2 separate regions of the Homo sapiens genome follow, and region 2 is linked to region 1. Evidence: fine-mapped expression QTL. Tissue or cell type: monocytes. Region 1 holds a variant in brackets; the other region holds the start of a gene. All regions are shown on one strand. Distances are from middle to middle.

Region 1 (10,440 bases):
AGCGCCAGCCAGCCCAGCTGTCTCACACTGTGAGCAGCCCAGTGGGCGCATGGCAGAGGCACAGGCACGCCATGGCCTGGCTCTCTGCGTTTCCTCGTGGGAGGGGGTTTATGTGGCCGAAGCAGGCCCTGGTGTGGATGGATCTGGCCTCCCAGGTATTGAGGGAGCACGGGGTGCGCCTGCTTCCTCCACGCACGTCGCCCATGGCCTCCCCAAGGCCCTGGCCTCACTCCAGATCCCGGGGCCACCTCCAGGCTCCACGAGCGCCAACTCCCAGCGCCGTCCAGACCCAGAGGCAGCCGTCCCTGCCTAGATGGTGACTAGGCACCAGCTCAGCTGTCACGGGTGCTGCCCCAGGTCCCAGGCCCCACCCCCTGCTGCCCAGGCACACACCCCCGCGGCAGGTGACTCCACCCTGCTCCTGCGCTCTGCTGTGCCGGGCACCTGCCTGCTCTACGCCCCTCATCCCCAGGATTTCCCACCCGCAGGCTTTCTGCGGGAGCAGTGGTGGCCCCGGCTTCTCACCCTTCAGGTTTTCTTGCATCTGCGCACCGGTGGAAGAGTAGGCCCAGTGGACTGGGTGCTGCTGGGAGGTGGGAGGCTGCTGGGAGGGCACCGGATGCCGGGGCCTTGCAACCTGGCAGAGGCTGTGCTGCTCAGGGAAGCAAGGTGGCCCTGGGGTGAGGCGGGGGGCTCAGAGGAAGGGGAGCCCTCAGGAGGAAGTGTTGGGGGCAACTGCCAGAGAGCCCGGCCACTGCCCAGTGCCCATCCGGAAGCTCAGCAGGGAGTGGGCTTGGAAGTGGGCAGGGGCATGGTGGCGCCGGCAGCATCCTATTTTGCAGATGAAGGGCGCCCTAATGGAGATCATCCAGCTCGCCAGCCTCGACTCGGACCCCTGGGTGCTCATGGTCGCCGACATCTTGAAGTCCTTTCCGGACACAGGCTCGCTTAACCTGGAGCTGGAGGAGCAGAATCCCAACGTTCAGGATATTTTGGGAGAACTTAGAGAAAAGGGTATGTTGTGCTGCTTTAATTCATGTTGGGTGGAGGGAAATGGATCTTTCTTGAAAAATTTTTTTCTGAAATGAATTTGATTTTTAGACCTTTACGTTTTTCCGTGTGTCCTGGTCCCTAGAATATTAACTGTATATGCACCATCCTCCCCCGTAAGCTGCTGCCTGGCTTTTGCCATCTTTGAAAACAAACTCCAAACAGCCCACAGGCCCCATCCTCACTGCTGCGGTGTCAGTGGGAGGCTGTGTCACGCCACTCGCCGTCTCTCTCTGGTCGGCTCCGTGAGGGTAGGGGCTCTGCCCATTCAGGTGGTATCTGTAGATCCTAGGTTCTAGGGCCCAGAGCATTCCCTGGCCCAGAGTACATGCTCAGAAATGCATGTTGAAAATATCAACGATTTAGTTGTTTAAATGTGAACTGAAAGTCACTTAGAAAATATTCACAAGGCTGGGCTCCGTGGCTCACTCCTGTAACCCCAGCACTTTGGGAGGCTGAGATGGCCAGATTGCTTGAGCCCAGGAGTTCGAGACCAGCCTGGGAAACATAGCAAGAACCCATTTGTACAAAAAATAAAAATTAGGTGGGCGTGATGGCACATGCCTGTCCTCCCAGGTACTTGGGAGGCTGAGTCAGGAGGATCACTTGAGCCTGGGAGGCCAAGGCTGCAGTGAGCCATGATCGCGCCACTGCACTCCAGCCTGGGTAACAGGGTGAGAATGTATCTCTTAAAAGAAACAACTATTTGTAGATGGATTTGAAGAACATGTCTTGATGGGATGCTTGATGCTTGTGCTTTTCTGAGTTTCTCTCCTGCTTTGGACAATTGGAACTGGCTCCTCAGAGCCCAAACGTTGTGCCCCAGCTCCTTCAAGGGCAGCACCCAGAGAGACAGGGTTGTGGGATGGAGACATCGAGGCTGCACACTCCTGCAGGGGCCCTGCTGGCCACCCCCCTGCAAGTGGCACCTCTCCCCACCTGTGAGGTCACACACACCACACAGATGCCTCTGGAGCAGTGGTCTGGACAGGTCCACCCCACCCCACCCGTTCGTGTCTCAGGAGTGTCCCGCGGGCAGGAAGGCTGAGGCCGGTGAACTCTCATGTGCCTGCCTGTGCTTTTTCTCCAGGTGGGGCACGTAGCCAGTTCAGGTGGGAGGTCGCCTGTCCCTCGTGGGGCAGTTTCTGGGATCTGAACCGTGGGTGAGCACACAGGCTGAGGAAATGGATGTGGGCAGTTTGGATGAGGGCCAGGGTTCCAGGAGAGACCACCAGCCTGGCTACCCTCGGGGACGGGAAGAGAGAAGCCACAGATCGGGGGTCCTTCTTACGTGGGGGTGGGATCTGTTAACATTTCATGTTCTACAAGTGTCTGGAGCCCTCCAGGAATCACTGTATCTATGTCCGCCTGTGGTTCTTGGTGTCCGCGGTGCCAGAGGTTTCCAGTTTACAGCCCTCTCAAGGCATGCCCGCCTCTCAGGCATTCCTGTTCTGCAAATGCTCCTGGGTGTTCTGCTGGAGCCGTGGGGAGTCAGTCTCGAGGACCTCAGGGGACAGCCGAAGCTCCCATGACCTAACCCTAACTGAGGAGGGTGTGGGGCTGGGCAGCCGCCAGCTCCTCTCAGCCGGGAGGTCTGCGGCCTGGGCGCCCCTAACTTCATGTGGTTCTTACCGGCAGTGGGTGAGTGTGAAGCGTCTGCCATGCTGCCACTGGAGTGCCAGTACTTGAACAAAAACGCCCTGACGACCCTCGCGGGACCCCTCACTCCCCCGGTGAAGCATTTTCAGTTAAAGCGGAAACCCAAGAGCGCCACGCTGCGGGCGGAGCTGCTGCAGAAGTGTGAGTGGCCGCGGCCGCCATCGGGCATTGTCTTTGTAGTTTCCAGTCATAGGTTTCTTAGGTTCTAAGGTACCAAGACTGCCCCTTCAAGGTGGCGTTCTGGGCCAGGCATGGTGGCTCACACCTGTTGGGAGGCTGGGGCAGGTGGGTCGTTTGAGCCCAGGAGTTTGAGACCAGCCAAGAAACCCCATCTCTACCAAAAGTACCAAAACATTAGCCGGGCATGGTGGTGCGTGCCTGTGCTCCCAGCTACTCGGAAGGCTGAGGTAGGAGGATCACCTGAGCCCACGAGGTTGAGGCTGCAGTGAGCTGTGATCACACCACTACACTCCAGCCTGGGAGAGAGTGAGACCCTGTCTCAAGAAAAAGAAGATAAAGTTCTGCATAAAGTTTTTTGTTAGAAGTTTATCACTATATTAAACTTTATGTTCTGAAAACATGCTTTAAAAACTTCAGAATTTAGGCTGGGCATGGTGGCTCACACCTGTAAACCCAGCACTTTGGGAGGCTGAGGCCAGCAGATCACCTGAGGTCAGGAGATCGAGACCAGCCTGGCCCACATGGTGAAACCCCGTCTCTACTAAAAATACAAAAATTAGCTGGCTGTGGTGGTGCATGCCTGTAATCCCAGTTGCTTGGGAGGCTGAGGCAAGAGAATCACTTGAACCTGGGAGGCGGAGGTTGCAGTGAGCCAAGATTGCCCCACTGCACTCCAGCCTGGGCAACAAGAGCGAAACAACATCTCAAAAAAAAAAAAAAAACCCACCAACTTCAGAATTTTAGGTGAAGGCATCTCTAATCTCTGTGACCAAATGAACTCTGTGCCAGCTGAGTCACGCTGTTGGGCACGGTGGGTGCCAGGGTGAATGGCTGGAGGGGCACGTTCCTTACTCTCACGTTGCTGCCTTCTGGAGTGGCGGGTGATCTCAATTCCACTTGAAAGATATTTAATCATTTCAGTTAACGTTTTCCCAAAGCACGACAAAGATTTCAATAACATCGTTTTATTTTGAATGGTTATGGAATTAATATTTATAATGTACATCAATACCCCGTTTCCAGAGAATCCAAATAAAAGGCTGACAGCAGCTGTGCATGGATCTTGGCTGGAACGGGCAGCAGCCAGGGCCCAGCGCTGTCCGGGAGGCTCCGTGCAGCCCCGGGCCCACTGGGTAGCCCAGGAAGGACTCTGCTGGCCCCTTGGGCCCCACCCCCTTTGGAGGCCAGCAGTGGCCACAGGGTCTGCTTTGGGCACTCGGTGTCCCCTGACCCTTCAGCCACACTGAACCAAGTCAGGAATATCTCTTCGTTTGTTTCTTCCTCATATTTTTGTATCTAGACCGTGCCTGCTGACCCTCAGCGAGGACGGTGCTACCACTGGGCCAGGGGGAGGCCCGGGTCGATGGAGAGGGCTCATGAGGTCCCTCAGCTCCTCCTCGGCTGCCTCCCCCCTGCCATGGGGTCCTGGGAGGTGCAGCCACAGCCACCCAGCTCCCGAAACTTGCTCACCTGAGTGAGTTTCTGACTCGTTGTAAAGTGCGAGCTGGTGTCAGGCCCGGCTCGGAACAGCTGCTCATTTAGAGAGAATGCAGCGTTCACGGCTCAGGCCGTCGGATGAATCCACTTGACAGAGATGTTTTTACAAGGGCCAAGGGCTCTCGCTCTGAGGATCCCTGACATATGTGACCTCTTCCTTCCAGCCACGGAGACCGCCCAGCAGTTGAAGCGGAGCGCCGGGGTGCCCTTCCACGCCAAGGGCCGGGGGCTGCTGCGGAAGATGGACACCACCAGTAAGGCCCCCACCCTGGTGCCGTGAGCCTTGCTTTTGGGGCAGAGCTAAGGGCTTCACCTGGAGACCCGCTCCCTGTTGGGGAGGTGGTGCCTGTGAATGGTCTTCAGGCAGCAGTGTTGGGAGCCCGTGGGAAAGCGAAGGCACTGGGGCAATTTCACCGGCTTCTCCCCTTGGGGAGCTCCCTGGGAGGATGTGTGGGCACGGAGACAGGAGGGCCGGGATCTGAGGACAGTGCTGGGCACGGAGACAGGAAGGCCGGGATCTGAGGACACCGCTGGGCATGGAGACAGGAAGGCCGGGATCTGAGGACAGTGCTGGCCCCTGCTCCTCTGCTGTTGGCACCGGTGGCTCTCGGCCTTCCCAGCTCGGGCTTTCGGCCCCAAGTGCTGCTCTTGGGTTCCGAGTGTCCCTGGGCGGCTCCGCGGGGAGGACGTGACCGTGCTCAGCTGCCCGTGGGGCTGTGCCCCCCGCACCCCTCCATCTGCCCTTCCTGATTTGTGCTCTCAGGGCTGGGCGTGAGCTTAAGCAGGATGCACCCTGATCACAGGAAGACGGCGTGCCCCTGGGAACCATGGCAGGGCATACTCACCCCAGAGGGTGCTGGATAGTGACCTGGGGGCCAGAGGGCAGGACGGGTGTCGTCCTGTGCTGAGACAGCTGGGTAAACTTGCAGATGGGTGGGGCTGAAAGGGCAGCCTTACAGGCGCTCTCCATGCAGCTCCCAGACCAGCCTGGCTTAGTTTATTTGGGCTCCCATAATCCCACAGTGTTCACATGGGACCTAGTAGAAGGCATCTTGGGTCTGCTGACTATTGTCGCTGTGTGGGGGGCCGTCCCTGGGTCATGTTCCTGCCCACCGCAGCCGAGGTTCCACCTTGCTCTCCTCTACCCCGCCTGGAGCAGACCCTTGTCTTTCCACCCCCACCAGGCATCCCAGGGCCAGGGCTGCACCTGCTGGCCCAGGGAGGGTGGGCCAGCCGTTGAGCAGTGTGTCCAGCCTGGCCCGGTGTGCTGATGGCACCATCCCCCGGGCGTCCTCTCTCCGGGCCTGGCACCATGAGAGCCACGCACGCCTTGGAGGGTGCGTGTGGGCGCTGGTGGGTAACAGCGTAGGTAGGCCTCAGGAGTGTCCTCAGGGGACGGGGAGAAGGCTTGGGAGGGCGGCCCTCAAGCCCAGGCGCCTGGCTTCATGCCCCTGCCGGTGGAGGCACAGGAAGGAGGCAGAGCTCAGCCCCCGCCACACTGGTGAGAGACTCCACCTGGTGAGATCCTGTGGCTGGGCTGGGGTGCCGCTGTCTTTGTTTGGTGTCTTGGCAAAGTGTGAGGTCGTGGCTCCAGGCGTTCCCCTGCTCCTTGAGGTCCGGGATCCTGGGGGTCCTGCCCGC[T/C]GCCCGCCAGGGGTTTGGCCCTTCCCCTCTGCGGCGCTAGCCTAGAAGAGGGTGGGACGTTCTGAGCTCGGGGTGGGGGACGTTTGCCGGTCACTGCTGCTGGCGCCCTGACTGTTGCCGTCCTCCAGCCCCACTCAAAGGCATCCCGAAGCAGGCGCCCTTCAGAAGCCCCACGGCGCCCAGCGTCTTCAGCCCCACAGGGAACCGGACCCCCATCCCGCCTTCCAGGACGCTGCTGCGGAAGGAACGAGGTGTGAAGGTAGGCCCGTCCCCCAGCTCCTGTGGCACCCCGGGGCCCGTTGCGCCCTGGTGCCGTCACTAAGGCAGGGCTGTGCTTGTCTTGGCAGCTGCTGGACATCTCTGAGCTGGATATGGTTGGCGCTGGCCGAGAGGCGAAGCGGAGAAGGAAGACTCTCGGTGGGGGTTGGGGCCTGCGTGTCGGCGGCAATGGGGGTCCCTGCGGGCCCTGCCCAGTTGGGGTGGGTTGTGCCCACGCTCGGCGGGCAGGGCTGTGCCCCGTGAGGCTGCTCTCCGTGGGTGGGTGCCTGCTTTTCTCCTCGCTCCTTGGTGGCCTCCCCTGGGAAGCTGTTTGATTCCCTGCCGCTGCCCTGAGCTGACACTGCAGACGCGCCCGGGCACTGGCGAGGACTCCTGTTTTGTCCACAGATGCGGAGGTGGTGGAGAAGCCGGCCAAGGAGGAAACGGTGGTGGAGAACGCCACCCCGGACTACGCAGCCGGCCTGGTGTCCACGCAGGTAGGGCTCGGGGCTGCACCCCATGTCTGGCACCACTGCGGGTGCCCCTTTTGTTCCGATTGTGGCCACTAGTGTGCTCTGTCGGAGAATATATATATGTATGTACATATGTGTGCAGTCTGTATTTATGTATATATACGTATATGTACATGAGAGGCAGTGTGGGCCGTGCCCTGACATGGGCATCTGACTCAGGCTTGGAGCGGGAACCTGCCCCACGCTTGCTGGAGGGGCTGCCAGGGGAGTCCTCCTCAACCCTGTGCCTCAGTGTCCCGTCAGGCAGGGCTGGTGGGACCTAAGCCTTGCACGTGGCCGTGAATGGGTGCAGGACAGGCCTGTGGGGGTGCTGGGTGGTCAGAGGCCTCAGTGTCCCGGAGACCAGGCCCTGCCTGCGGGTGGGAGGCAGCCACGGGGCGCGGCAGGTGCACAGAGGCTGCAGTGGGTCGTCTGAGGCCAGGGCCTGGAGGAGGCCACACTGTGGGGTCACTTCAGGATAATAAGCTCCTTTCTTCCCGCCGCTGCGTGTTCTGTGTTTCTTAACATGAGCATCTTCCTTTATATCAACGCTTCGTGGTAAGAAAAAGCATCGCTCCTTCTGTGCTCAAGATGGGCTGTTTGGGCTCCTCAACCCCTCCCCTCTCCTACACAGGAGCGGCTCAGTCCCCAACTCTGCTGGGGCGCCAGGGGCCAGGGGTCCCGTTGTCTAGCCCAGGGAGCTCGGGAGAGTGGCCCCCGCCTTCCTGCTCTAGCTCGGGGGGCCACAGCCTGTGGCAGTGGAGCTCCGGGTCGGGCCATGTGTTAGCACATGCCGGAAGCATGGCCTCTTCTGGAAGGAACCTTAAACTCTGTGTTCCAGAAACTTGGGTCCCTGAACAATGAGCCTGCGCTGCCCTCCACGAGCTACCTTCCCTCCACGCCCAGCGTGGTTCCCGCCTCCTCCTACATCCCCAGCTCCGAGACGCCCCCAGGTGAGTCTGCTGGCCCCAGCCTGGAACCAGCCAAGCTGCCTGCCAGGACATGACCTTGCCCACGGGCGCTGCCAGGGCTGCGGTTCTCACTCCTGCATCTCTGTTGTCCCCCTTCTGCCTCAGCCAGAATCTGCTGGGGGCAGATGCCCCGCTGTTCAGCTTGAGCTCCAAGACATAAACCAGCTGCTTTGCCCCACCCTGCCCGTCCTGGGCACAGACAGGCAGCGGCCCCAGGGGACACGGCAGGAAGGGGATTGGGTTCGAAAGGGTTTTCTGCCAGGTGACCCAGCTCTTGTTGCTGGGTAGGCGGGAGGGGAGCTGAGAGCCATCCCCTCCCAGACGGAGGGCACTGCCAGGCTCACAGCACCTCAGGCCAGGTCCTGGGCCCAAGGGGCTTGAGGATACAGCCTTCCTGTCTTCCCAGCAGTGCCTACGGTATGGGGACCTGCTGCAGGCCAGCAGCTGGCCAGAGTCCAGACATCTTATCTGCGAGTCTGGAAAGGCCTGAGACCACTGGCCTTGTTCCTCTGGCTGGGGCTTCTGGGGCCTGTGCCTTGGCTGGGGGCCACAGGGAGTTCTTGTCAGAGGGTAGCAGGACAGAGAAGGGGAGCTGAGCCTGTCACCTCCAGGAGCACTAGGGTTTGGGAACAGGGTGGGGGTCCAGCCCCCTCACCAGGCCCCGGTCTACTTGCAGCCCCATCTTCCCGGGAAGCCAGCCGCCCACCAGAGGAGCCCAGCGCCCCGAGCCCCACGTTGCCAGCGCAGTTCAAGCAGCGGGCGCCCATGTACAACAGCGGCCTGAGCCCTGCCACACCCACGCCTGCGGCGCCCACCTCGCCTCTGACACCCACCACACCTCCGGCTGTCGCCCCTACCACTCAGACACCCCCGGTTGCCATGGTGGCCCCGCAGACCCAGGCCCCTGCTCAGCAGCAGCCTAAGAAGAACCTGTCCCTCACGGTAGGTGTACACTGGTAGGGCCCACAGGCCACCAGGTAGGTGGTACGGCCCTGGCCACCTCCCCTAGCGTGGGGGTGCCACGGTGCCTGCAGGGGGATGCAGGAGGTGGTCCTGGCGGGGCCCTGGCACCCACACCCCTCTCCCCGCTGTAGAGAGAGCAGATGTTCGCTGCCCAGGAGATGTTCAAGACGGCCAACAAAGTCACGCGGCCCGAGAAGGCCCTCATCCTGGGCTTCATGGCCGGCTCCCGAGGTATGTTCATAAGGCAGGGCCTGGGGGTGCACCGGGCCGGGTTGGGGGCGGGTGCCCCCAGACACCCACCCAGCAGCTCCTGCTCTCTGCAGAGAACCCGTGCCAGGAGCAGGGGGACGTGATCCAGATCAAGCTGAGCGAGCACACGGAGGACCTGCCCAAGGCGGACGGCCAGGGTAGCACAACCATGCTGGTGGACACAGTGTTTGAGATGAACTATGCCACGGGCCAGTGGACGCGCTTCAAGAAGTACAAGCCCATGACCAATGTGTCCTAGAACCACCTGCCTCACAGCTGGCCGTCACTTGTGGGGGTCCACGGGACGATGGCTTTGCCAGCTTAAAGTAACCGGATGGCGGACACCTGGCCCCCGAGGTCCCCCGGCCGCCGCCCTGCTGCTGACCCAGCCTGTTTTAAGTTCTGGATGCATTTCTCTGGGGTATTTGGGGCTTATTTTTAAAATTTTAATATGGGTTCTTTTTTGTGTGATTTAAGACACTTTTTGGACTCAACGTTACATTTTTGAATGTAGTAAGTAAATTAACCAAAAAAGTTACAACTTCCTAATTTTAGTGACAGCTCTGCCTGTTAGACTCTTACTTTTTAAAATCTTTTCTATTTTCCCTCGCTGGGGCAGTGCCCTCCTACCCCCAGGGTTGAGGGGACCAAGGTGGCACGGTGGTACTGGGGGTGCGGCAGGGACACCCGACCACACCAGAGCGTGGGAGACGGTGGGCCTTGTCCCCTGCCTGTGCCTGCCTGGGAGTTTTGTATTCATCTTTTGTATAGTTGTGGACATTTAAGACAGTCTTTGGGTACCTATTTTCATTGTAAAACTATCTGAACCATTAAAGTCGAGCTTTTCTAAAGAAAGCCACCATAGCTGTGTTTGGGGCCAGCTTGTCCTCCCTGCTCCGGGGACCCAGTCCCTCCCTAGGCGGCCATCAGGACGGGGTGGGCCAGGGCTGGGGGCTTCCTAGGACACCCTGGCCCACAGGGTGGGGAACAGGTAGGATCAGCCCTCGGGGTACTCCCTTGACTTACTTGGCTGTGGGCCTGGGGACCACCCGGCTCAGCCGACTGCAGGGCTGGGGGACAGCAGTGCTTCCTTCTCTCTAGACCATTTCACCCTTAATGGGAATTTGGGAAGCAAATTATTTCTGAAAGAAGAAGAAAGCATTTTTCCAAAGTCAGTCAGTTATGCCTGCTATTTCCAGTATTTGTTGTTATACTTCCCAAGGTGGCACTGCCTCTCCCCAGCGGGTCAGGTCAAAGGCAAAATGACACAGTCAGGACAGGGAGCCCCACCCATCGGAGGCATCAGTGCCACACCCGATGCTTTGCAATTCAAAGTAACTGGAAAAAAAATCAAACAATCCCATATAAAATAAGTTAAGAAAAAAGCCTTTAAAATGTTTTTAATACAAAAATACTCATACACAATTTTCCAAACACAGCTTTCCATTTTAAATGCTATT
Region 2 (10,440 bases), 22 kb before region 1:
CTCGTATTCATAATAACCAACTGGAAAATAGAATACAGGATATCATTCATAAGAGCATGAAATACACTAAGGCATCTGAGTTAAGCTAATGAAAATGATTAGGAACTGTATGAGGCCTGGCGCGGTGGTGCACACCTGTTATCCCAGCTCTTTGGCAGGCCAAGGTGGGAGGATTGCTTGAGGCCAAGAGTTTGAGACGTCATCTCTACATAGTGAGACTTCATCTCTACAAAAATTTCAAAAGCTAGCTGGGCATGGTGGCACGCGCCTGTAGTCTCAGCTATGAGGCTGCAGTGAGCCAAGATTGTACGGCTGCACTCCAGCCTAGGCAAGAGTGAGACGCTATCTCTAAAAAAAATAAGTAAGAAAGAACTGGCCAGGCGTGGTGGCTCATTCCTATAATCTCAGCACTTTGGGAGGCCAAGGCGGGGAGATCACTCAAGGCCAGGAGTTGGAGACCAGCCTGGCCAACATGGCAAAACCCCATCTCTACTAAACAAACAAACAAACCACAAAAATAGGCTGGGTGTGGTGGCTCACACCTGGATCCCAACAGTTTGGGAGGCCGAGGTGGGCGGATCTGAGATCAGGAGTTCGAGACCAGCCTGGCCAACATGGTGAAATCCCGTCTCTACCGAAAATACAAAAATTAGCCAGGCTTGGTGTTGCATGCCTGTAATCCCAGCTACTCAGGAGGCTGAGCGATGAGAATCACTTGAACCCGGGAGGCGGAGGCTACTAGGGAAGGTGAGAGGCAGGAGAATTGCTTGACCCCGGGAGGCGGAGGTTGCAGCGAGCCGAGATCGCGCCACTGCACCCCAGCCTCACCAACAGAGCGAGACTCTATATCAAAAAAGAGAAAAACACAAAAATTAGCTGGGCATGGTAGCATATGCCTGTAGTCCCAGCTACTTGAAAGGCTGAGGCATGAGAATCGCTTGAGCTTGGGAGGCGGAGGCTGCAGTGAGCTGAGATCGCACCACTGCATTCCAGCCTGGGCAACAGAGTAAGACCCTCTCTTAAAAAAAAAAAAAACTGTATGGAGAAAAATAGTAACGTCTACTGAAGATCATAAAGAAAGAAAAATGAAAGCTTGTCTGTGTATCATATACTATATAAAGATGTCAGTTCTCTCTAAATTAATCTACAAACCCAATGGAAAGCCAATCAAAATACCACTAGGGTTTTTTTTTAGAAATTCAGTAAAGTTGTAAAATTTATTGCTTTAAAGTAAAAATAAGGACTTTTTTTTTCCCTTTGGTCGCCCAGGCTGGAGTGCAATGGCACGATCTCAACTCACTGCAACCTTCGCCTCCCGGGTTCAAGCAATTCCCCTGCCTCAGCCTCCCAAGTAGCTGGGATTACAGGCGCCTGCCACCACGTCCAGCTAATTTTTGTATTTTTAGTAGAGACGGGGTTTTACCATGTTGGCCAGGCTGGTCTCGATTTTGAGATGGAGTTTCCCTCTTGTTGCCCAGGCTGGAGTGCAATGGCACGATCTCCGCTAACTACAACCTCCGCCTCCTGGTTTCAAGCGATTCTCCTGCCTCAGCCTCCTGGGTAGCTGGAATTACAAGCGCCTGCCACCACGCCCAGCTAATTTTTTGTATTTTTAGTAGAGATGGGGTTTCACCATGTTGGCCAGGCTGGTCTCGAACTCCTGACCTCAGGTGACCCGCCTGCCTCAGCCTCTCAAAGTGCTGGGATTATAGATGTGAGCCACCATGCCCAGCCAAAATAAGGACTCTTTATGTTGCAGAGTCAGGCAAATAAATTAGAAAAAAAGATAAAACTGCCTTCACAAATGGCATGATTGTCTTTGCAGAAAACTAATACAATGTATGAAAAAACTACTGGAACAAATAAATGCGTTTAGCCAGGCTGCAGGATACAAAATCAACACACAAAAATCTGTTGTATTTCTATATACTGGCGACAAACACTGATAAATTAAAAATTTTAAACAACACCCTTTACAACCACATCAAGGTTATGCAATACTTGGAGGCAATTCTGAAAAGATGTGCAAGACCCTTACATTGAACACTACAAAATGGGGCTGAGAAAATTTATTTTTTAATTTATTTTTAATTTTTTAGAGACAGAGTCCCACCATGTGGCTCAGGCTGGTCTTGAACTCCTGAGCTCAAGTGATCCTCCCACCTCAACCTCCTAAGTAGCTGGGACTACAGGCGCACCACCAGCCCAGCTTTTTATATTTGTTGTAGAGATGGGGTTTCGCCACGTTACTGAGGCTGGTTTCCAACTCCTGGGCTCAAGCAATCCACCCTCCTCGGCCTCCCAAAGTGCTGGGATTACATAGCCATGAGCCTAGCTGAGAGAATTTAAAGACCCAAATAAACAGAGAGAAATACTATGTTCACTAGACAGAAGTTACCAGTTCTCCCTCAACTGACCTACAGATTCAACACAATTCCACTCAAAATGCCAGAAGCCTTTTTTTTTTTTTGTAGAAATTGACAAACGATTCTAAAATTTATATGGAAATGCAGGCTGGGCACTGTGGCTCACCTGTAATCCCAGCACTTTGGAAGGCTGAGGTGGGTGGATCACTTGCGGTCAGGAGTTCTAGACCAGCCTGGCCAACAGGGTGAAACCCCGTCTCTACTGAAAATACAAAAATTAGCCAGGTTTGGTGGTGCATGCCTGTATTCCCAGCTACTTGCAAGGCTGAGCCATGAGAATTACTTGAACGCAGGAGGTAGAGGCTGAAGCAAGCTGAGATTGCATCACTGCACTCCAGCTTGGGCAACAGAGCCAGACCTTGCCTCAAAAAAAAAAAAAAAAAAAAAAAAAAAAAAGGAAATACAGAGGACCTAAAATAACCCAAATAACTTTAAAAAAAAAAAAGTCAGAGAATTAACACTACCTGATTTCAACACTTATTTTAGAAAGCTATAGTAACCAAGACAGTCTGGTATTGGCATAAAGATAGATGAGTAAGTCAGGATAGAAAAGTCCAGAAAGGATCGTCATTTCGACAAATAATATGGGAACAACTGGATACCATGTTTTAAAATGAAAAAAACTTTGGCTTTCTAATTTTGCAATCTGATAGGTGTAATGAGGCATCTTGTTATTTTAATTTGGGTTTGTCAGGTTGCTGATGAATTTAAGCATCTCTCCATGTGCTTCTCCGGTATTTGGGTTTCTCCTACGAATTGCTTTTTTTTTTTTTTTTTTTTTTGAGACAGAGTCTCGCTCTGTGGCCCACGCCTGAGTTCAGTGGTGTGATTTCCGCTCCCTCCAACCTCTGCCTCCTGGGTTCAAGCGATTCTCCTGCCTCAGCCTCCTGAGTAGCTGGGATGACAGGCATGAACCACCACGCCCCACTGTTTTCGTATTTTTAGTAGAAACGGGGTTTCACTATGATGGCCAGGCTGTGAATTGCCTATTCTTATCTTCTGCACATTTGTCTATTGTCGGTCTTTTTCTCGTCGATTTACAAGCATTCCTTTTTTCATTCTGAATATTAATCCATTGCTTTCTGATGCTGTAACTAAGTCCTCCTAGTGGTTTGTCTTCTTGGTTAAGCCAGATGTTAACTTGGATTTTTCCTGCATAAAACTGAAGACTCAAGATGCATCAAGCACTGTATACAGAAAAGTGCTGCGTATCCTACAGAAAGCTACAGACAGTTGGGGGTCAGAATCATTCGGATTGTTTCAAGTTTGGGGCTATTATAAATAAAGCTGCTATAAACGTTTGCACACAGGTTTCTGTGAACAAAAATTTTCATTTCAACCAACTAATGTTTACGGTTCAATCATGATTTCACAACTTGAAGTAACTTTCACTCTTCTCATACTAAATTTGATATGTCGTCCACTGTTAAACTATTTCTTACCCTCAGATTATAATTATTAAACTTTTTTTTTTTTTTTTGAGAGGGAGTTTTGCTCTTGTGGCCCAGGCTGGAGTGCAATGGCAAAATCTCGGCTCACCGCAGACTCCGCCTCCCGGGTTCAAGCCATTCTCCTGCCTCAGCCTCCCGAGTAGCTGGGCTTACAGGCAAGCCATGCGCCACCAAGCCCGGCTAGTTTTGTATTTTTAGTAGAGACGAGGTTTCTCCATGCTGGCCAGGCTGGTCTCGAACTCCCGACCTCAGGTGATCCGCCCGCCTTGGCCTCCCAAAGTGCTGGGATTACAGGCGTGAGCCACCGTGACCGGCCTAATCATTAAACTTCTTTCAGCACTAGCCCCACTGATGTCACAACTTCACCCATTAGTCAATAACTTGTCTTTGCTGAATTCGACACTTTTGAATCATTTAAAAAATATTCTCTTAAATTTTATGTGCTATTTGCAATGTAACGGTTGTCGACATGACAGTTTTAAGTTTAATCTTTATCATCAACATTTTCTCTATCACTTTCTTCAGTTTAAGCAATCAACAAAACCACCGCTCCAGCACTGATTTGTAGCATTTGCGGGTTTCCCCCGTGTGACTTCCGCAGGACTGCCAAGTTCAAGCCGCCAGGGCCAGGGCACTGCTAGCAGCTGGGCTGAGCCCTGTTCTCCCGGCGTTCCCACCGCCCAGTGGCAATAGCTGTGAACGGCGGCAGGAGCATGGCAGTGGAACAATAAGGAAAAGATCTTTTAAAAAAAAGATATAATACAGAAGCCAAGCAAGGCGGCCCCGACCTGTAACCCCAGCACTCTGGGAGGCAGAGGCGGGCGGGCGGATCGCTTGAGCCCAGGAGTTTGAGACCAGCCTGGCCAACATAGGAAGGCCTCGTCAAAAAGACAAAAGGGTAAAACGAATTTAATAAAATGAAGTTTAACTTTTACTCATGTTTGTATCTAATGACAAGCTTTTAAAACTGAAAAGTTCACTACTGGCTCCTGCCTGGCGGCTCCAGCCCGACTGGGGGCCGGGGCCTCCCTGCACTGTGGGGTCACGAGTGCCCCTGGACAGCTCCCGAGCGCCCTCCGACCCGCATGCTCAGCGCAGCCCCGTCGGCGGCGCGCCACGGGCAGAGCGGGCTCAGCGGGGGACGGAAGCTCAGCGCTGCGACCGGGATCCCGCAGGCTCGCTCCGCAGGGCCGCGGCTCCTCTCCGTGCAGGTGCTGGGCCCGCGGGGGCGGGGCGTCCACACGGTCCGCGCCGAGACCCAAGCGGGGAAAAAGCGAAGAGCGGACAGCGGGGCAGGTGCCACAGGGAGCCTCCGCCCCACCGCGCGAGCAGCAAGTCTGCGGCGCTTGACACCTGCACTGCGAATGCCAGGCCGCAGCCCGGGCTCCCAAGACGCGAATACGCGCGCCTGCTCGTGACGTCATTTTTTGCGGTCTTCCCGAGAGCCAGCAGAGGGCGCCGCCATGATGTTTTACGGAAGCCGATAGTCCTTGCTCAGCGGCACCCCGTCCTTCCGGCTCTCGGCTTTGCCACAAAGCTTCCCGAAGACGCGGCCGCTACCCGGAGACGCGGTCGCCACCCAGAAGCGCTCTCCCGGGAAGCCCCGCTCGTGGGACCGCGCCACCTGCGCCGCCTCTGCGGCCCGCAGCCCGACGGGCGCCGCCATGTTGGGGTCCTAGCGAGGGACGCGTAGGTGTCTTCATAAGATGCCGGGGCAGCGGCGCGCGCTTTCCCCCAAGATGGCGTCCATGCGGGAGAGCGACACGGGCCTGTGGCTGCACAACAAGCTGGGGGCCACGGACGAGCTGTGGGCGCCGCCCAGCATCGCGTCCCTGCTCACGGCCGCGGTCATCGACAACATCCGTCTCTGCTTCCATGGCCTCTCGTCGGCAGTGAAGCTCAAGTTGCTACTCGGGACGCTGCACCTCCCGCGCCGCACGGTGGACGAGGTAAGGCAGGCGTGGCGCCCCGCGGCCCCCAGATTCCCAACCTTCCCACCTCCGACCCGCACACCCAACTCCGGACCCTCCTCGCTCCCTCCCCCAACCTTCCCATCCCCCTTCAGACTGTTAACCCCCCCGGCCCGCCCTCACGCCCCCTCCTCGCTCCTCCGAATACCTCCCTCCAGTCCTCACCTCCCCCTGGGTCCTCATCCCCCGCCTCGATCCTCATCTCCCACCTCGGTTCTCATCCCCACCGTGGGTCTTCAGGACCCCCCGCCCCTCCTCGCCCCCTGGGAATCCCCCACTAGGGTCCTCACCTCCCTACTTTTCGTCCTCACCCCTACCCAAGTTTTCACCTCCCCTGGGATCCTCAATCTCCTCCCCGCCGGGCCCCGGGTTCTCGCTACGACCCCCAGGTCCTCACTCCCCTCCCTGGGCCCCCGGGTACTCATCCCCACCCGCCCCCGCCTCCCCCGCCTTCGGTCCTCACCACCCTAATCCCCCACCGTGCCGAAGCGACCGACTCTTGGAGCGGGGGTGCGCCGGCCCCAGCGGGGTCTCCCATCGGGGTTTCCCGTCGGGGACGCAGCCCTGGTGACCTGGGCGAGGGCGGGGATCCCGAGAGAAACCCCCGCGTGAGGAAGGGGCGGCCTGGGCTCGGTAGCTCCAGTGTCCGCTGACTGGATTTTCTTGTTCTCACCTCGCAAAGACCCCGGCCGTCCGGAGCGCTCTGTGTCCGTTTTACTCTTTTCTACACGCCGTTTTGCGTCATTCCAATAAGTGGGTGTGTGAGGTTTGTTTTCTTTTTTCCTAAACTTTATATTGTATCGCTTTCCGTGCGAAATAAACCGAGTAGTTTTGCAGACTATTGAAGCCCCATGGTTGTTTAAACGTTCCTGGCTACTGATGTATTATTAGCTATTATAGGTTGTAATTGCTTTTGATTGAGATATGACATGTATGGAAAAGTGCATTTTTGTTCAGTTTAACGAATAATAATAGCATCGCGAGCCACTCCTGTGATCCTTACACAGGTGGAGAAGTAGAACCATGCCTGTTCCTTGGAAGCCTCCCACTGGTAATCACGGCCTTCTTCCTTTCCCCTTCCTCATTTTGGAAAGGTAATCATTTCTGTGCCATCTCCCCGGTGTGAGCAATTATTTATGCACCCCTAAATGGCACAGCTTGGTTGCCGGATTTGGAGTTAGTGTGATGGTATCATAGTGTATTTTGTGTGTGGCGTGCATGTGTCTTTTTGGTCGACGCCGTGACAGTTTCATCCACGTTGCAGCTGACTGCAGTTTAATTTTCACTGCTGCGTGGTATTCCTGTCTGTGAGCACGAGGCACTTTATCCATTCTGCCACAGTGACACGCTTAGCTTTTGTGCTCTTGTAAATCATCCCGTTACTACATTACGGTCATATGTTCAGGTGTTTGGAATCTTGGATTTCTCTAGGGTATAACATCTAGGAGTGGAATTGTGAGGATCATAGGATCATGCCAAATTATTTTTCAGAGTGTTTTGTTTTTGTGTTTGTGTTTTGTTTGAGACAGGGTCTGGCGCTGTCAACCAGGCTGGAGTGCAGTGGCACCATCGTGACTCACTGCAGCCTTGACCTCCTCACCTCAGATCTTCCCATCTCAGCCTCCTGAGTAGCTGGGACTACAGGGTTTCACCATGCTGCCCAGGCTGGTCTTGAACTCCTGACCTCAAGCAATCTGCTTGCCTCAGCCTCCTGAAGGGCTGGGATTACAGGTGTGAGCCATGGCACTCGGCCTGCTGTTTGGTTTTCTGCTTTGAGAATTGTATATTCAAATCTGCTTTTAAATTCTCTTTTTTCCCATTGTTTTGTAAGAGTGTCTTTTTTATTATTTATTATAAATGCTAGATATCAGTCCTTTTTCAGTTACAAATATCTCCCAGTTGTCCTTTGACTTTGACTTAGCTTCCTGGAATCCTTTTTTTTTTTTTTTTTTTTTTTTTTGAGACAGCGTCTCACTCTGTCACCCAGGCTAGAGTCTAGTGGTATAATCATAGCTCACTTTAACCTTGAACTCCTGGGCTTAAGCAGTCCTCCCTCCTAAACCTCTGTAGTAGCTGGGACTGATGCGCTGCCACCACGCCTGGCTAATTTTTGTGCATGTGTATGGAGATGGGGGTCTTACTGTATTGCCCAGGCTGGTCTTGAACTCCTAGCCTCAAGTGATCCTCCTGCCTTGGCCTCCCATAGTGTTGGGATTACAGGTGTGATCTGTGCGCCCAGCCCTTTTCCTGGAATCATGGATGAATAGAAGCTCCTAGTTTTAACATAGATGGTGTATTCATCCGCCCACTATCATTGGTGCCTATTGTGTCTCCCCGAGGGACATGCCCGGAACACTCCCTGGGTTATCTTGGCGTAGCTGTACAGTTTTACCTTTCGCACTTGAATCTTCAGTCTGCGTGGAATTGATGATTGTGTGAAGCAGGGAGTCTAATTTTCCACATGGATGTGCAATTAGTCCAGCACCCAACGTTGATTGAAATGACTGTCCTTTTCCATTGATCTGCACTGCAGCTTCTGCTGTGGATGTGTTTCTGGGCTGTGCTCTGTTCTTTTGGTCATTTACATATCGATGTGCTAATAACCCACTAAGTCGGTTCTTGTCACTTTATTTATAAGCCTTGTTAGCGGACGGAGCAAACCCTCCCACTGTATCTTTCTCCGGGATCATCTATGGCTATTCTTGTCCCTTCACACTTCCACATGTATCTTATATACTTACTTCTTAAACACGTAGAGCCTGCCTGCTGGGATTTTAAGGCTGAGCTGAACTTGCAGTTCATTCTGGGGTGCTGTCCTCTTTATATTGCATCCTATAATTTGTGGGTGTGGGCTTATCTATTTAGATGTTCTTTGTGATCTCTGTAGGGGTCTTCCATCTCATATATTACCACCTATTTCATATTTTTCCATGCCGTTGTAAATGGTATCTGTTAAAGTCTTAGTTTTTACTTGTTGCTGGTATATAGAAATGCGTTGATTTTTGTTTTTGTTTGTTTGTTTGTTTGTTTGTTTTTTAGACGGAGATCTCACTCTCTCACCCAGGCTGGAGAGCAGTGGCGCGATCTCAGCTCACTGCAACCTCCTCCTCCTGAGCTCAGGTGATTCTCCTACCTTAGCTTCCCGAGTAACTGGGATTACAGGCATGCACCACCACACCTGGCTAATTTTTGTATTTTTAGTAGAGATGGGGTTTCACCATGTTGGCCAGGCTGCTCTCGAACTCCTGACCTCAGGTGAGCCACTATGCCCAGCCTGATTTTTGGATAATGAATTTGTGACTAGTATCTGTGCTAAAGTTTTGCTAGTTGCAAAATTTTTTTTTTCTATAGAATCTCCTTGATTTTTCTGTGCACTTCATATTATTTTTCTTTCTCCAATTACCTTTTGTTTTTTTTCTCGTCTCACTGGACTGGCTAGGACCCTCCAGCTCATTGTCTTACCTCCGATCACACAGGGAGAACTCGGAATGTTTTGCCAGTGAGCATTATGTTTCCTGTTGTCTTTAATAAATACCCTTTATCTAGTTAAGGAAATTCTCTTCTTAGAAGACTTGTAAAAAAAAATCTTTTAATCATGAATTTTTTTAAAATAGCTTTATTGGCTGGGTGCAGTAGCTCACACCTGTAATCCCAGCACTTTGGGAGGCCGAGGCGGGCGGATCACGAGGCCAGGAGATCGAGACCATCCTGGCTAACATGGTGAAACCCCGTCTCTAAAGAAAAAATACAAAAAAATTAGCCGGGCATGGTGGCAGGCGCCTGTAGTCCCAGCTACTAGGGAGGCTGAAGCAGAAGAATGCCGTGAACCCAGGAGGCAGAGCTTGCAGTGAGCTGAGATCGCGCCACTGCACTCCAGCCTGGGCGACAGCAAGACTCTGTCTCCAAAAAAAAAAAAAAAGCTTTATTAAAATATAATGTATAGCTGGGTGCAGTAGCTCATGCCTGTAATCTCAGCACTTTGGGAGGCCAAGATGGGCGGATTGCTTGAACCCAGGCATTCGAGATCAGCCTGAGCAATATGGTGAAACCCTGTCTCCATAAAAAATATAAAAATTAGCCAGGGGTGGCGGCACATGGCTGTGGTCCCAGCTACTTGGGAGGCTGTGGCGAGAGGATCACTTGAGCCTGGGAGGTTGAGGATGCGGCGAGCCATGATTGCATCACTGCACTCTAGCCTGGCCGACAGAATGAGACCCTGTCTCAAAAGAAAAAAGATATTATTTTATGTACCATATAATTATGCCAGGTAGTTCACCATTTAAAATGTACACTTCAGTAGTTTTTAGTATATTTACAGGTTTGATGGTCATGCTAGTCAATTTTCAAACATTTTCATCATCCCCCAAATAAATCCTACACTCATTAGCATTTGCCCAGTCCTCTTCCTCCCCACTCCTAGGTGACTAGTAATCTACTTTTTGCTTCTATAGATTTGTCTATTCAGGATATTTTATATAAATAGAATCATACATCTGGTCTTTTGTGCCTGACTTCTTTCACTTAATGTAATGTTTTCTTTTTTCTTCTTCTTCTTTTTTTTTCTTTTTTTTGAAACAGAGTCTTGCCCTGTCG

Evidence for each region. PIP is the estimated chance that this variant, and not a neighbour inherited with it, causes the effect.
Region 2: it holds the start of NELFA, and the variant in region 1 is fine-mapped to the expression of NELFA in monocytes (TOPMed, PIP 0.97).

What each region holds. Positions count from the first base shown.
Region 1 is chr4:1,982,118-1,992,557 of GRCh38, reverse strand. It overlaps NELFA (negative elongation factor complex member A), which reads left to right. Exons shown (of 11, transcript NM_005663.5): 2 at 843-1,014; 3 at 2,689-2,850; 4 at 4,551-4,640; 5 at 6,156-6,286; 6 at 6,375-6,444; 7 at 6,694-6,782; 8 at 7,639-7,750; 9 at 8,445-8,710; 10 at 8,863-8,962; 11 at 9,055-9,835. The coding sequence ends at 9,239. MIR943 (microRNA 943) reads left to right here and starts at 6,081; the gene lies at 6,081-6,174. NSD2 (nuclear receptor binding SET domain protein 2) reads right to left here. Exons shown (of 22, transcript NM_001042424.3): 22 at 10,366-10,440. RefSeq lists an enhancer at 1-750. The variant T/C (reference allele first, on the strand shown) is at 6,028.
Region 2 is chr4:2,004,136-2,014,575 of GRCh38, reverse strand. It overlaps NELFA (negative elongation factor complex member A), which reads left to right and starts at 5,602. Exons shown (of 11, transcript NM_005663.5): 1 at 5,602-5,826. The coding sequence starts at 5,617. It overlaps LOC124900839, which reads left to right. Exons shown (of 4, transcript XM_047416543.1): 4 at 4,403-5,570. The coding sequence starts at 4,815. The coding sequence ends at 5,570. RefSeq lists a silencer at 4,852-5,231 and enhancers at 5,292-5,811, 5,419-5,919.